2 linked regions of the Homo sapiens genome follow. The protein of the gene in region 2 purifies or fractionates together with the protein of the main gene of each other region. This does not show direct contact. Each region holds a gene or a part of one and is shown on either strand. Other genes may lie near its edges.

Region 1 (7,027 bases), on a different chromosome or scaffold from region 2:
CCCCGGCTAATTTTTGTGTTTTTAGTGGAGACGGTGTTTCACCATGTTGGCCAGGCTGATCTCGAACTCCTGACCTTAGGTGATCCACTTGTCTCAGCCTCCCAGAGTGCTGGGATTACAGGTGTGAGCCACTGTGCCTTGCCTAAATTTTTTTTTGGAAAATTTAATAATGTTACTTGTGTTAATATAATTGGATTTGTGATTAACATGTGATGGATTTATTTTTTAATGAATTAATAAATACTTTTTAATTAAAAATGATCAGTTCTAATTTTGAACACCATAAATAATAGAACCTGCATAAACCAAAGAAGGGGCCCAAGACCAAACAGTTTGAGAATTGGTAATTTATGGAGTACTTACCACCATTTGCTGGGCACTTTCATAAACGATTTGTTGTCAGGATTGTTGGAAGACTAACAGATGAGAGAATTGAGGCTCAGAGAAAATAAAGCTGAACCAAGATTTATTTATTCTTTTATTCTTTCAACACTTGAACTGCATTTTTTATAGTTTTCTTTGAAACAAAAAAAGTACTTCTGAAATGAACCTTTCTGCCTGCATAGAAATATTACAAGTATTTAAGGTATTAAAGAAATTTGTCACAGCATGGTGGTTCACGCCTGTAATCACAGCACTTTGGGAGGCCGAGGTGGGTGGATCACTTGAGGTCAGGAGTTCGAGACCAGCCTAGTCAACATGCTGAAACCTGGTGTCTACTAAAAATACAAACATTAGCTGGGTGTGGTGGCAGGTGCCTGTAATCCCAGCTACTCGGGAGGCTGAGGCAGGAGAATCGCTTGAACCCAGGAAGCAGAGCTTGCAGTGAGCCGAGATTGTGCCACTACACTCCAACCTGGGAGACAGAGCAAGACTCTGTCGTAAAAGAAAAAAAAAAAAAAGAGAACTGGAATGGAGTTTTGAGGGTCAGAGATTAGAGTTCCTGATAACAGCTTTTGCTTCCTTATCTTCTTAGTGAGGTTTTTGTTTTTTTGTTCTTTTAAATCCTAGACCTCACTCTCATAATCACTGTAGGATTACCACTAGGAGGGTGTTTTTTGGCTTCTTTTATTTATTTTATTTATTTATTTTTTTTTGAGACAGAGTCTTGCTCTGTTGCCCAGGCTGGAGTGCAGTGGCAGGATCTGAGCGCACTGCAAGCTCCGCCTCCTGGGTTCACACCATTCTCCTGCCTCGGCCTCCCGAGTAGCTGAGACTATAGGCGCTCACCACCACACCCGGCTAATTTTTTGTATTTTTAGTAGAGACAGGGTTTCACTGTGTTAGCCAGGATGGTCTCAATCTCCTAACCTTGTGATCTGCCCACCTTGGCCTCCCAAAGTGCTGGGATTACAGGCATGAGCCACCGCGCCTGGCCTTTTTTCTTTTTTTTTTTTTTTTATCCTAGACCTCACCCTTATAATCATTGTAGGATTACCACTGTGAGGGTAAAACCGTGCATTGAGTTGACATTATTTAATGTTAAAATTGATTTTTTTAAATGATGTGGAGCTTTTGGGTCTATTTGTTTATTCGATGTTGCTACAAGTTTGTTACTGTGAGTAATTGAAACCTGCCTTTAGCAAGGGTAAAGATGTTCACTTGAGAAATGAGTGTTATTTTGAAACTTTGCAAATTAAAACTAAACAAAACTCAATTCTTTTTCTTGGGGAATGTTCAAATATTTCCCATAAGCTTCTTTGAAATTAATAAGCATTATTAAAAAGATTCAAGGAAGTGAATGCATGCTCAAGTTTGACCCTATAATTCAGAATGTTTAGTTTTGTAAGTATCAATTATTCTTAATTTCCATTCTTCTAGTATTTGAAATACCTGTGGAATGAAGAGAAAAAAATTAAAGCTAAGCCATCTTGTCCAATGTAATTCCAGTAGAGCTCTGCGACTCTAAAGCTTAGAGCTACATCTATATTTTCAAGCACATCAACTTTAAGAAGAAAGTTTTGAGGAAACAAAGTTTTGATCTACCTTTCCTTTTAAATAGATGAAGAACTTCCTGATTACATTATGGTGATGGTGGCCAACAAGAAAAGTCAGGACCAAATGACAGAGGATCTGTCCCTGTTTCTAGGGAACAACACAATTCGATTCACCGTATGGTATGTTTCTGAATTTTTGTGCCTCAGACCAAAGTTTGGCACAAGCCTGAGTTGATATTCTGTCCAAAGAGAGGTTCTTGACACTTGAGTTAGGTTTACTTTGGAGAGGCAGTTTGTGAGTGATGAGAGCACAGCCTCTGTATTAGTCCATTTTCACAGTGCTATGAAGAAATACCCGAGACTGGGTAATTTCTAAAAGAAAGAGGTTTAATTGACTCAGAGTTCCACATGGCTGGGGAGGCCCCAGGAAGGGGAAGCAAGCACCTTCTTCACAAGTCGACAGGAAAGAGAAGAGTGAAGGAGGAACTTCCAGAGACTTATATAAAATCATCAGATCTTGTGAGAACTCACTGTCTCTTGAGAACTCGGGAACTCACTGTCTCTTGAGAACTCACTATCATGAGAACATCATGGGGGAAACCACCCCCATGACCCAGTCACCTCCCTCCCTTGACAGGTGGGGATTACAATTCAATATAAGATTTGGGTGGGGACACAGAGCCAAACCTTATCAGCCTCTGAAGCCAGACAGCCAAAGTTGAATCCTGGCTGTGTCTTGCCTTGGTTTCTCTAGCTATAAAATGGAAATAGTACAGCCACTTGCTTTATAAAATTATTATTGAGGATCAAATGGGCTAATATGTGTAAAGTACTTATAGGTGTCCCTAGCATTTTCCTAAGGAATTCTTAGTATATGTCGGCTATACTTAATATGTTTCTTTTGTAAACTTCTATATCTTTTTTTTTGAGACAGGGTCTTGCTCTGTCACCAGGCTGGAGCACAGTGGTACAATCATGGCTCGCTGCAGCCTCGATCTCCTGGTTTCAAGTGATCATCCCATTGCAGTCCCCTCCTTCCTGAACTCCCATGCCTGACTAATTTTTAAATTTTTTGTTCAGACAGGGTCTTAGTATGTTGCCCTGGATGCTCTTGAACTCCTGGGCTCAAGCAGTCCTCCTGCCTTGGCCTTCAGAAGTCTTGGGGTTATAGGTATGAGCCACTGCACCTGGCCAGCTTCTGTATCTTATAGTTCCTTTTCCCCCACCAAAACCAGTTACAGATGTTTTTTTGAACTGGGTTGGCTTCTTACATTGCCTTTTACAATGAGTTACCTTTAGAGGGCAAGGTTTTCTGTTTCTCACTTTTCTGTTTCTTACTTTTTAAGCTTTTTGTTAAACTCACACCTTCATTTTGAGTAATAATTGTAGTGTAATGTTACAGCATATTTTGAGATTATAAGTTTTTTTAAGTTTGGAATTTTAAAATAGGCAACTTTGCTTTTATACATAAATTACTGTTATATGCCTTTAGTTGAGAATACTGACTAGAAGAGTAAGATTCAACTTAAGATGCTAGGTCCTGGTACCAGGTTTGAGGTAAAGTGAGGATGAGGGCTGGAGGATAATGATGTAGCTGAGAATAGACAGACGAAATACTTTATTAGGCTTCTCAGGCTAGGAACTACCAGTTACCGTGAAAGGTGATGATGTAGCAGAAGTGAGCAAGTGGCCTGCCGAATTTGAGTGCAAGAGGAGGCACTGAGTGGGGAGATGAGCCTGGTTAAGTTCTTGCCTTTATACCAAAGGTCGTCTTCAAGGTGTTTTTGCCCAAGTAGGCAACTGTATGCTTATCAACCGTCTTGAAATTCTGCACAGAATTCTCTGGGTTTATACATTGCACAAATTTGAAGAACATTGTATAGTGGTCATCAGTTGTTATGATACACTGCTGCCTCACTGTGGGTGACCCAACCCATTTGTTACAATTTGTCCCCAGAGGTTATTCCCTCCCAGCCCCCCACAAAAAAAGACTGTGGGTCTTTTGACTGGGAAAATTACCATTATTGTGAGTACTATTTTTTTTTCTAAAGCGACCGAGTAGATCCTTTTCTCCGATAACTTGATAGAATACTTAGATTTTTAAAACAGACTACCAAATGAATTTAAAACCAAATTAATTCAACATTCTCATCTGGCCATAAATTGAGTTCTTTAACATGTAGTGAAGCAAAGGGTGATGTCCCCATTTTGGCACTTTGCTTTCTTAAGTTAGTGTTCATTAACACCAGCCCCAAACAGACTATTGTGATTATTTGGAGCCTTGAAGTAATTGTGTCCGTGGGGACAGTAGCATGTGACTAGGGTTCTCATTGAAACATGAGGTTTCTGGCATATTTTGAGAGGTACTGGGAAGGGATGTAAGGCAAAGTACCTCATTTATAACTACCAAAACAGGTTATGTTACAAGCAAGATTACAGCCTTACAGCATCAGTTTTGAAAGTAATAGAGTGAAATGATATAGCATAGTTTGAGATTATAACTTGTTTTAACCTCTCAGAATTAAGTTGTCCAAGACACCATCTAGTTTAAGCAGTTAATATAAGCTGCTTAAATGGTGGTAATAATAAGCAATATTACATGTTTATGATACTTGTTTTACTGTAAGCTACAGTAAATCTTTAGTACTTACAAACAGGGTGACATATTTTGTAGACTAAGACTGGTCAGATGATATTCTTTCCCATATTTTTGCAGAGGCTAGATGTTGAAAACAGTGAAGAAAAAAATACAATTTTTTATTGACTTCTGTAGGATTTATACAAAGCCCTTTTTTAAAAATGTGAAGTTTGAAAGTTCATACCATTTATTCACTAAATACAGTTTATCAGTATTTATCTCAGCTAGGTGCGGTGGCTCACGCCCGTAATCTCAACACTTTGGGAGGCTGAGGCAGGTGGTTCTCTCAAGTCCAGGACTTCAAGACCAGCCTGGACAACACAGTGAAACCCCATCTCTATTTAAAAATAATAAAAATATAAAAAAATTTAAAAAATTATCTCTGAATATAATGTCATAAATTTAGAGTGACAGTTGAAATGAAATCTTTCTTAACAGAAGGTTTATTTTTGTTTTTTGTTTTTTTCCTCAGGCTTCATGGTGTATTAGATAAACTTCGCTCTGTTACAACTGGTAAGATTCATAACTTTTTTTTTTAATTTCTGCTTGCTATGGCATATGATTTGTTTCTTTCTAAAGTCATAGTGCTTTGGGAAAAACCCATCAATTTCAAAACGGTTCATTTGAACTTTTTTAGAAAGCACATACTTTTATGAACTTAAGAGCAGTAAATTTAACATAATTCAAAGATAATTTAAGTGTGGGAGAGGGAGCAGTGCACTTTATCCGAAGGAAATAATTACATATATGTGCAAAGATTTAGCCTCAAGGATATTTCAGTATTTTATAATTGAAAACAATTTAAAAGTTCAGTCATAATAAACGAAATTGTTGTATTACCATGTGTGGAATAATATTTAACTATTAAAAATAATGTTGTGGAAGAATAACAGAATATACACGCATAAGATACATGTTTTAAAAAATGTGTATATATGCTCTTCCCCCGAAAAATCACCTTTGAGATAATTGGTGATTTTTATTATATTTTTAAAATTTTCTACAATAAACATACTGCTTTTGAATTGGTGATGAGGAAGGAAACGACTTAAAGTAATAAAAATAGATGGCCGGGCACGGTGGCTCACGCCTGTAATCCCAGCATTTTGGGAGGCCAAGGTGGGCGGATCATGGGCTCAGGAGATGGAGACCATCTTGGCCAACCAACATGGTGAATCTCCGTCTCTACTAAAAATACAAAAATTAGCCAGGCATCGTGGCACATGCCTGTAATCCCAGCTACTTGGGAGGCCGGGGCAGGAGAATCGCTTGAACCAGGGATTTGGAGGTTGCAGGGAGCCGAGAACGCGCCACTGCCCTCCAGCCTGGCGACAGAGCGAGACTCCATCTCAAAAATAAATAAATAAATAAAAATAAGAAATAAAAATAGATTAAAAGGACTGTATTTTTCTTTTCAGAACCCTCTAGTCTGAAGTCTTCTGATACCAACATCTTTGATAGTAACGTGCCTTCAAACAAGAGCAATTTCAGTCGGGGAGATGAGAGGAGGCATGAAGCTGCAGTGCCACCACTTGCCATTCCTAGCGCGAGACCTGAAAAAAGAGATTCCAGAGTTTCTACAAGTTCGCAGGAGTCAAAAACCACAAATGTCAGGTAAGAGTCTGGTGTAGACCTGCTGGGGGCAGATGGCTCTGTGTATGTGACATTTATATTAGTTTTTATATCTTTCAGTTTGCTGTTCTCAGCAATTTTTAGAAACAATGAAGTGATCGTGAGTAGTTTTTTGAATAAAATAATGGATAAGATCTAAGTATGATTATCTTTTATCACAAATTTAGTAAATCAAAGTTGAAAGAAAGTGCAATTTCAAAGCAGTTTTGAATGGAATATGTAAAGGGAGTATCCTCAGTTTTTTCATTGAAATTTTTCAAGTAAACATTCTTTAAAGATTTGGTGATAATTGCCCTAATTTGGCTGTAATACATTTTGTTGTTCTTTTAAATAGACAGACTTACGATGATGGAGCTGCAACCCGACTAATGTCAACAGTGAAACCTTTGAGGGAGCCAGCACCCTCTGAAGATGTGATTGATATTAAGCCAGAACCAGATGATCTCATTGACGAAGACCTCAACTTTGTGCAGGAGAATCCCTTATCTCAGAAAAAACCTACAGTGACACTTACATATGGTTCTTCTCGCCCTTCTATTGAAATTTATCGACCACCTGCAAGTAGAAATGCAGATAGTGGTGTTCATTTAAACAGGTTGCAATTTCAACAGCAGCAGAATAGTATTCATGCTGCCAAGCAGCTTGATATGCAGAGTAGTTGGGTATATGAAACAGGACGTTTGTGTGAACCAGAGGTGCTTAACAGCTTAGAAGAAACGTATAGTCCGTTCTTTAGAAACAACTCGGAGAAAATGAGTATGGAGGTTTGTATGTACTTTTAAATTCTGGCTTAGGCTAAAAATCGGCAGTTCTTGATACC
Region 2 (7,027 bases):
TACTGCTGCATGAGGCTTTTCAGATTTTCATCTTAAAACTTGAAAAAGACATGATAAAATAAAAGCAAAGTAGCATTCACCTTCTTTCTTTTTCTAGAAGGATTCCTTGTAGGGTCAGGCTTCTCAAACTCTGCTGACTTTGCCTCTTCCTTTTCCTCTTCCTCATCAGGTATCAGAGAGTATTTAGTCCCACCTGGTTGCATGAAACAATCTTTTGCAAAGTGGCCTGCAGAAGAAAAGTAGAAAAGGTATAGAAAAAGGAAGTAGTCTCTCTTCTCAGCAAGTGAATCTTTCCCCAAGTCTCCTGAAATGGGCTAGCTGGCTCAGGAAATATTGTTGAGTTCATTCAAAGCAGCTGTTTGATTCAGGGTAGATTTTCTACCACCTCAACATGACACTGCTCACTCAACCACAGCCAGACTAGCAGCTGGTCTCAGGGCTGTGGGGAACACTGGTACTGTTCTCGAAATGGCAAAGGATATGAGGATGCAGGTTTTTACTGCCCTCCATTAACAATGGGGCTTATTAATTTTTTAAGATCTATTTTGGAACATATTCCTGACAATCAAAGACTGCTCCAGAGAGCAGGATGTTTAGCAGAAGGAGCTGAGTGGCAGGCCAAGCCCTAAAGGAATATAGCTTGTAGGTAGCTGGTAGCAAGTGGGCACTCACATCTAAGCTAACACACAGAGAAATAGGCACAGTCACCTAGGGGCACTGAACATTTACAGACTGTCAGGTCTGGCAAGCACCTTGGAAATCATTAAATCCATCCTACATTTGTAGAAGATGAAAGCCCAGATTTGAGAAGTAGCTCAAGGTCATATAGACAGAAGCAGAGTTCAAACTTATCCTGGGTCTCATGCCTCCCTGCCCTGTGCTTTCTGCTGCACCAAAACCAACTACCTTTGACCTGACCTTTACTAACTGGGACAAATTCCACCTCTCATTATTCTTCTCTTCTTTATGTAATGCCTGTTGGACACGGTTAAGGTTAAAAGACCCCCACCTTCACTGAGCCTATAGTGGTACTGAGGGGCCCTTTAACAGATGCTATGCTCTACACTGCTAGTTGTGTCTGAGTTTGTGGTAGATCCTGTCTTAGGGGCACAGAGGAATTGTATGAGATAATCAAAAAGCTATGTGTGGGCTGGGCACAGTGGCTTATGCCTATAATCTCAGTACTTTGGGAGGCTGAGGCAGGAGGATCACTGGAGCCCAGGGAGACCAGCCTGGGCAACACAGGGAAACCCCGTCTCTACAAAAAATTTTTAAAAATTAGCTGGACATGGTGGTACACACCTGTGGTCCCAGCTACTCAGGAGGCTGAGGTAGGATTGCTTGAGCCCAGGAGGTCAAAGATGCAGTGAGCCATGATCATAACACTACACTCCAGCCTGGGTGACCCTACCTTAAAAACAACAAAAAAAGCTATCTGTAAAGTACTCTGTACCTCTGGGTCCAACAGCTGGGTGGCACCTGGCAGGGAAATATAGCAGAGTTTTCCAAATACCTGGAATGTTCCCACAGTTTTCCTGAGGAGGTATTCTTTCTCTCAATTTTATTTTTTCCTTCTCCCCTCTATGCTAATGATAAATAGGGGCTTAAAACCCCACAACTTCAACCAGGGCACAAATCTGCTACCAGTTATTGTAGAAAAATCACACAGTAGGGTAGACGGAAGACTAGGGAGAAGGGGTGACAATTGAGGTCAACCTGAAAATGAGAAGCTGGCAATCTCTCTCATTATAGCTCCAACTAGGGATCAGGCTGAAAGACCTTTTAAAATTTGAGTAAGAGTAGAGGAAACCTGAGGAAATAGAGCTAAAAAGAAGTGACTATCCTGTATTCTTTATTCAATATCCTGTAAAAAGATATTGTATTCAGAACTCTGACATTAAAGAGATAAAGATGAGAGTCTGACTTGGATCTTTAAGTTATATATGTCTAAGTTGCTTAATTTTTGCAGAATCATCATCCTTGGAGATAAAATTAGAGTGTTAATCATAATCCAACACTCTTACTCCTCCTGGCATAGTTCATGGGGGTCTTGCCCAGACAAGGCATATGCTGTGGGTGGGGTGGGAGGAGTGGTGGTAGTGGTATAGTATCTGGTAGGGCCAGCACTCAGAAAAGAAAACAGAAAATGTATCACCCCATGAACTCTGATGTGAGTCTGGTGGAAAAAACAGCAAAGGCCATCACTTGGCTAAAAAACAGGGTAAACTAAACTCACACTGGGCTGCCTCCTTCTTCCAGAAAAGGGTCCATCCACAAGGAGAGAAACGTGGAAAGGGCAGAGGCTTCACCCTACCTTTACAGCCACACTTCTTGCAGGTAGTGTTCAAGACAGCCTCAAGGGTGATCTTCTGCCCAGTGTAATCCTGGAAGGATCGCCTCCGCCTCTCTTCTTGCCTATAATGAAAAAGATACCGACTGCCGGCCCCCTTAAGAGATATGGCCAGAGATACTACAAGGTAAGGTTGTATGTTGGTTTTTTGTTTTTGGCAGGGAAAGGGGAGAAAGAAAGAAAGTTTTTGACAGAACGAGACAGGCAGTAAATGCAATGATGTGAAATAGCCCTAAATTAACAATTACGAATGAGACTAACCTTCATCTCACTAATGCACAGAGGATGAAAATATATAATTACTCAACATGCTAAACACCCTACAACCCTTACCAGGTCACTCATAGGTTTAAAAGACCTTCAAAGGCTTTCTAGAAAATCAGCTCCAAATTCTTTACCTTGGCATTCAAGGTCTTTCACAGTTTGTCTCTAAACTACTTTTCCAGCCTCATCTTTACTCACACAATATGCTCTGGCCAAAGAAGTCTATTTTCTCTTATCCATGTGGCTCAGTGCTTTTGCTCAGGCAGTTCTCCCCCTCTCTGAAATGCTCTGTTTCCCCACTTGACTCTCACCTCACCACTTCACTATACCTAGACATTTCATGGCTCAGTTCAGTTACTAGCTCTCCTTCTATCAAGTCTTTTCCTCTGAGCCCCTCAGACAGAATTAATCTCTTTGTTGCATTTCTCATAGCCTTTTAAAACATTTTTAGACTTCTTACCAAAATATAATATATATGTTGATGTGATTTGGCTCTGTGTTCCCCCACACACAAAAATCTCATGTTACATTGTAATTCCCAGTGTTGGGGGAGGGACCTTGTGGGAGGTGATTGGATAATGGGGTCGGATTTCCCCCATGTGATAGTGAGGGAGTTCTCATGAGATCTGATGGTTTAAAAGTGTGTGGCACTTTCCCCTTTGCTCTCTCTCTCTTTCTCTCCTGCCGCCATATGAAGATATGCTTGCTTCCCCTTCACCCTTCAGCCATGACTGTAAGTTTCCTGAGGCCTCCCCAGCCATGCCTCCTATACAGGCAGTGGAACTATAAGTCAATTAAACCTCTTTTCTTTATAAATTACCCAGTCTCAGGTAGTTCTTATAGCAGTGTGAGAACTAATATATATATATATATTATATTATATATATATATATAAATGTCTGTCATAAGTATACAGCTCACTTGATTTTTCATAATTTGAACATACCAAAGTAACCAGTACTCAGATCAAAAAACAGAACATTAAGGCTGGGTGTGGTGGCTTATGCCTGTAATCCCAGCACTTTGGGAGGCCAAGGCGGGTGGATCATAAGGTCAGGAGATCGAGACCATCCTGGCTAACAAGGTGAAACCCTGTCTCTACTAAAAATACAAAAAATTAGCCGGGCGAGGTGGCGGGCGCCTGTAGTCCCAGCAACTTGGGAGGCTGAGGCAGGAGAATGGCATGAACCTGGGAAGCAGAGCTTGCAGTGAGCCGAGATTGCGCCACTGCACTCCAGCCTGGGCGACAGAGCGAGACTCTGTCTCAAAACAAACAAACAAACAAACAAACAGAACATTGCCAGCATCTCAGAAGCCCATCTCATGCTCCCTTCTAGTTACCTGCCTCCCCCAAGGGTAATCACAATTCTAATTTCTAACAGTACAGATTCCTTTTACTTAAAAAAAAAAAAAAAATAGCCAGGCATGGTGGCTTGTGTTTGTAGTCCCAGCAACTCGAGAGGCTGAGGCAGGAGGATCACTTAAGCCTGCAAGATTGAGGTTGCAGTGAGCGGACTGCACCACTGTACTCCAGCCTGGGTGACAGAGCAAGACCCTGTCTCCAAAACAAACAAACAACAAAAAAAAACCCATAACAAAGGCAGAAACTTGAGGACATAACTCAAGGAACTCACAAACATGGTTTTTGCTTTCACCTATCTATTTGTAGAGATGAGTTTCAAGTGGCTGTGAGTTGCAGCTTAAGCAACCCCCATGACAATCAATTCCAATACTCTGTGGCTTCTACCAGACTACAAACCAAATCATACTTCCCACTTAACACTCAATTCAACAAATGTGTCAGTCACCCACGTCTCTCTTTTTGTCCTCATTGCCATCATTCTAGTTTAGGCTCCCATCATGTTTCATCTAGAGTAATAACTCCCTCACTGGTCTCCCTGCCTCCAGTTTTCTTCCTCCAATCCATCCCAGCACAGATTCTGAGATTAATCTCATTTTTTCAGTACAGCTAGTAAGTGGATAACGCCAGTGCTAATACTAGTGATAGTAATAATTATGTATACCAAAACGAACAAAACATGATTCTTTTCTGGAAAGAACTAATAGTCTGGCAATGGAGGGAGACATACAAATGAAAAATTTTAACAGAGTTAAGTCATATGTGCTTTTTCTAAAGACTACCCTATGGACCAGCAGTTGTGGCTCACACCTATAATCTCTCAGCACTTTGGAAGGCCAAGGTGGGAGTATCACTTGAGACCAGGAGTTCAAGATCAGCCTGGGCAACACAGCAAGACGTCATCTCTACAAAAAATTTAAAAATTAGGCCAGGCATGGTGGCTCACATCTGTAATCCTAGCACTTTGGGAGGCCGAGACAGGAAGATCACCCGAAGTTAGGAGTTCAAGACCAACCTGACCAACATGGAGAAACCCCGTCTCTACTAAAAAAACAAAAATTAGCCGAGCATAGTGGTACATGCCTGTAATCCCAGCTACTCGGGAGGCTGAGGCAGGAGAATTGCTTGAACCCAGGAGGTGGAGGTTGCAGTGAGCCGAGATCGTGCCACTGCCTCCAGCCTGGGCAACAAGAGTGAAACTCTTGTCTCAAAAAAAAAAAAAAAAAAAAAAAAATTAGTGGGGCATGCTGGCATGGACCTATAGTCTTGGCTACTTGGGAGGCTGAAGGAGGAGGATCACTTGAGCCTAGGAATTTGAGGTTGTAGTGAGCTATGATCACTACACTCCAGCCTGGGAGACAAAGACCCTGTCTCAAAAAAAAAAAAAAAAAATTATATACTACACTCAATTCTGATCTTGATCATAATAAAAAAGAAAAAGACTGTACTTTGCAGGCTATGCCTAATTGGAAACTGCTTTTAGCCCCTTTCCATTTACAGAGTCACTTATTAGATTATCTCATTAACACTTTGGGACCTGAGGGGATGAATATAAGAGTTAGATTTTTATGGAAAATGAAAGGTGGCTAACAAACTATGGATGGCTGAAGACAGGATGAGAATACTGAGCATAACAGGGCAAGGCCAGACAATGGGATTCCTGGGGAGGTTAATCTGACGAGAAGCCTCTCTGTCCAAAGGCTTTTTTAAAAAAATTCATGGGCTGGGTGTGATGGCTCACGCCTGTAATCCCAGCACTTTGGGAGGCCAAGGCAGGCGGATTACTTGAGGCCAGGAGTTCAAGACCAGCCTGGCCAACATGGTGAAACCCCGTCTCTACTAAAAATACAAAAATTAGCCGGGCGCAGTGGTGGGCACCTGTAATCCCAGCTACTCAGGAGGCTGAGGCAGGAGAATTGCTTGAACCTGGGAGGCAGAGATCATGCCACTGTACTCCAGCCTGGGTAACAGAGCAAGAGTCCATCTCAAAAAATAAATAAATAAAAATTCATATTCTTTAACTGATATTCATGGCTCTCCACAATCTGACCCTAAATTATCTTTCAAGCCTTCCATTCTAGTACTTGACCATATCCTCTTCTTTCCTTAAACAAGGTTCCCAAATGTACTATGTGCTTTTCTGCCTCATTCCTTTCCTCAAACCATTTCTTTTGCCTGAAATACCATTCCTTCCCCTGCTGTCTGACAAGATCTTATCTGTTCTTCAAAACCTAACTCAAATACCACCTATTCTCTGACCATCAAGGCCTGAAGTAAACTATTCCTCCTCAAGTGAATTCCTAGAACCCTTTCTTTAAACAGGGAGTCCCTAACCCCCAGGCCACAGACTGCTACTGGTCCATGGCCTGTTAGGAACCAAGCTGCATAGCAGGAGGTGAGCAGCAGGTGAAGGAGCATTACCACCTGAGCTCCGCCTCCTATCAGATCAGCAGCAGCATTAGATTCTCATAGGAGTGCAAACCCTATTGTGACCTGCACATGTGAGGGATCTAGGTTGCGCACCCCCTATGAGAATTTAATGCCTGATGATCTAAGGTGGAACGGTTTCATCCCAAAACCATTCCAGCCCCCTATCCATGGAAAAATTGGTCTTCCACAAAAGTAGTCCTTGGTGACAAAAAGGTCGGGGACAACTGCTTTAAACTACTCTTTTAGTATTTATTACAAGTTGCCTTATATTTGTTGAACAAATGAGTAAATGAAAGTACTAACTAGGGCTGAGCGGTAGTGGCTCATGCCTGTAATCCCAGCACTTTGGGAGGCTGAGGCGGGGGATCACTTGAGGTCAGGAGTTTGACACCTGCCTGGTCAACATGGTGAAACCCCGTCTCTACTAAAAATACAAAAATTAGCCAGGCATGGTGGACTATGCCTGTAATCCCAGCTACTCGGGAGGCTGAGGAATGAGAATTGCTTGAACCCAGGAGGCAGAGTTGCAGTGAGCCACGATTGTACCACTACACTCCAGCCTGGGTAACAGAGTGAGACTCCATCTCAAAAAAACTAAATGAATACTATGGATGCTATACATC

Evidence for each region. Proteins that work in one complex are often made in the same cells at the same time.
Region 1: the proteins of ZCCHC17 (region 2) and ZC3H14 purify together in Homo sapiens (affinity purification with mass spectrometry; 2 studies listed by BioGRID and IntAct, with this or other methods). This does not show direct contact.

The regions. Positions count from the first base shown.
Region 1 is NC_000014.9:88,566,037-88,573,063, forward strand, and holds part of ZC3H14 (zinc finger CCCH domain-containing protein 14), read left to right. Parts: intron 1-1,821; exon of another isoform or gene 1,822-2,002; coding exon 2,003-2,117; intron 2,118-5,047; coding exon 5,048-5,088; intron 5,089-5,993; coding exon 5,994-6,189; intron 6,190-6,541; coding exon 6,542-6,971; intron 6,972-7,027. UniProt on the Homo sapiens protein: RNA-binding protein involved in the biogenesis of circular RNAs (circRNAs), which are produced by back-splicing circularization of pre-mRNAs.
Region 2 is NC_000001.11:31,342,028-31,349,054, reverse strand, and holds part of ZCCHC17 (zinc finger CCHC domain-containing protein 17), read right to left. Parts: intron 2,416-7,027; coding exon 2,315-2,415; coding exon of another isoform or gene 2,237-2,314; intron 227-2,236; coding exon 81-226; intron 1-80.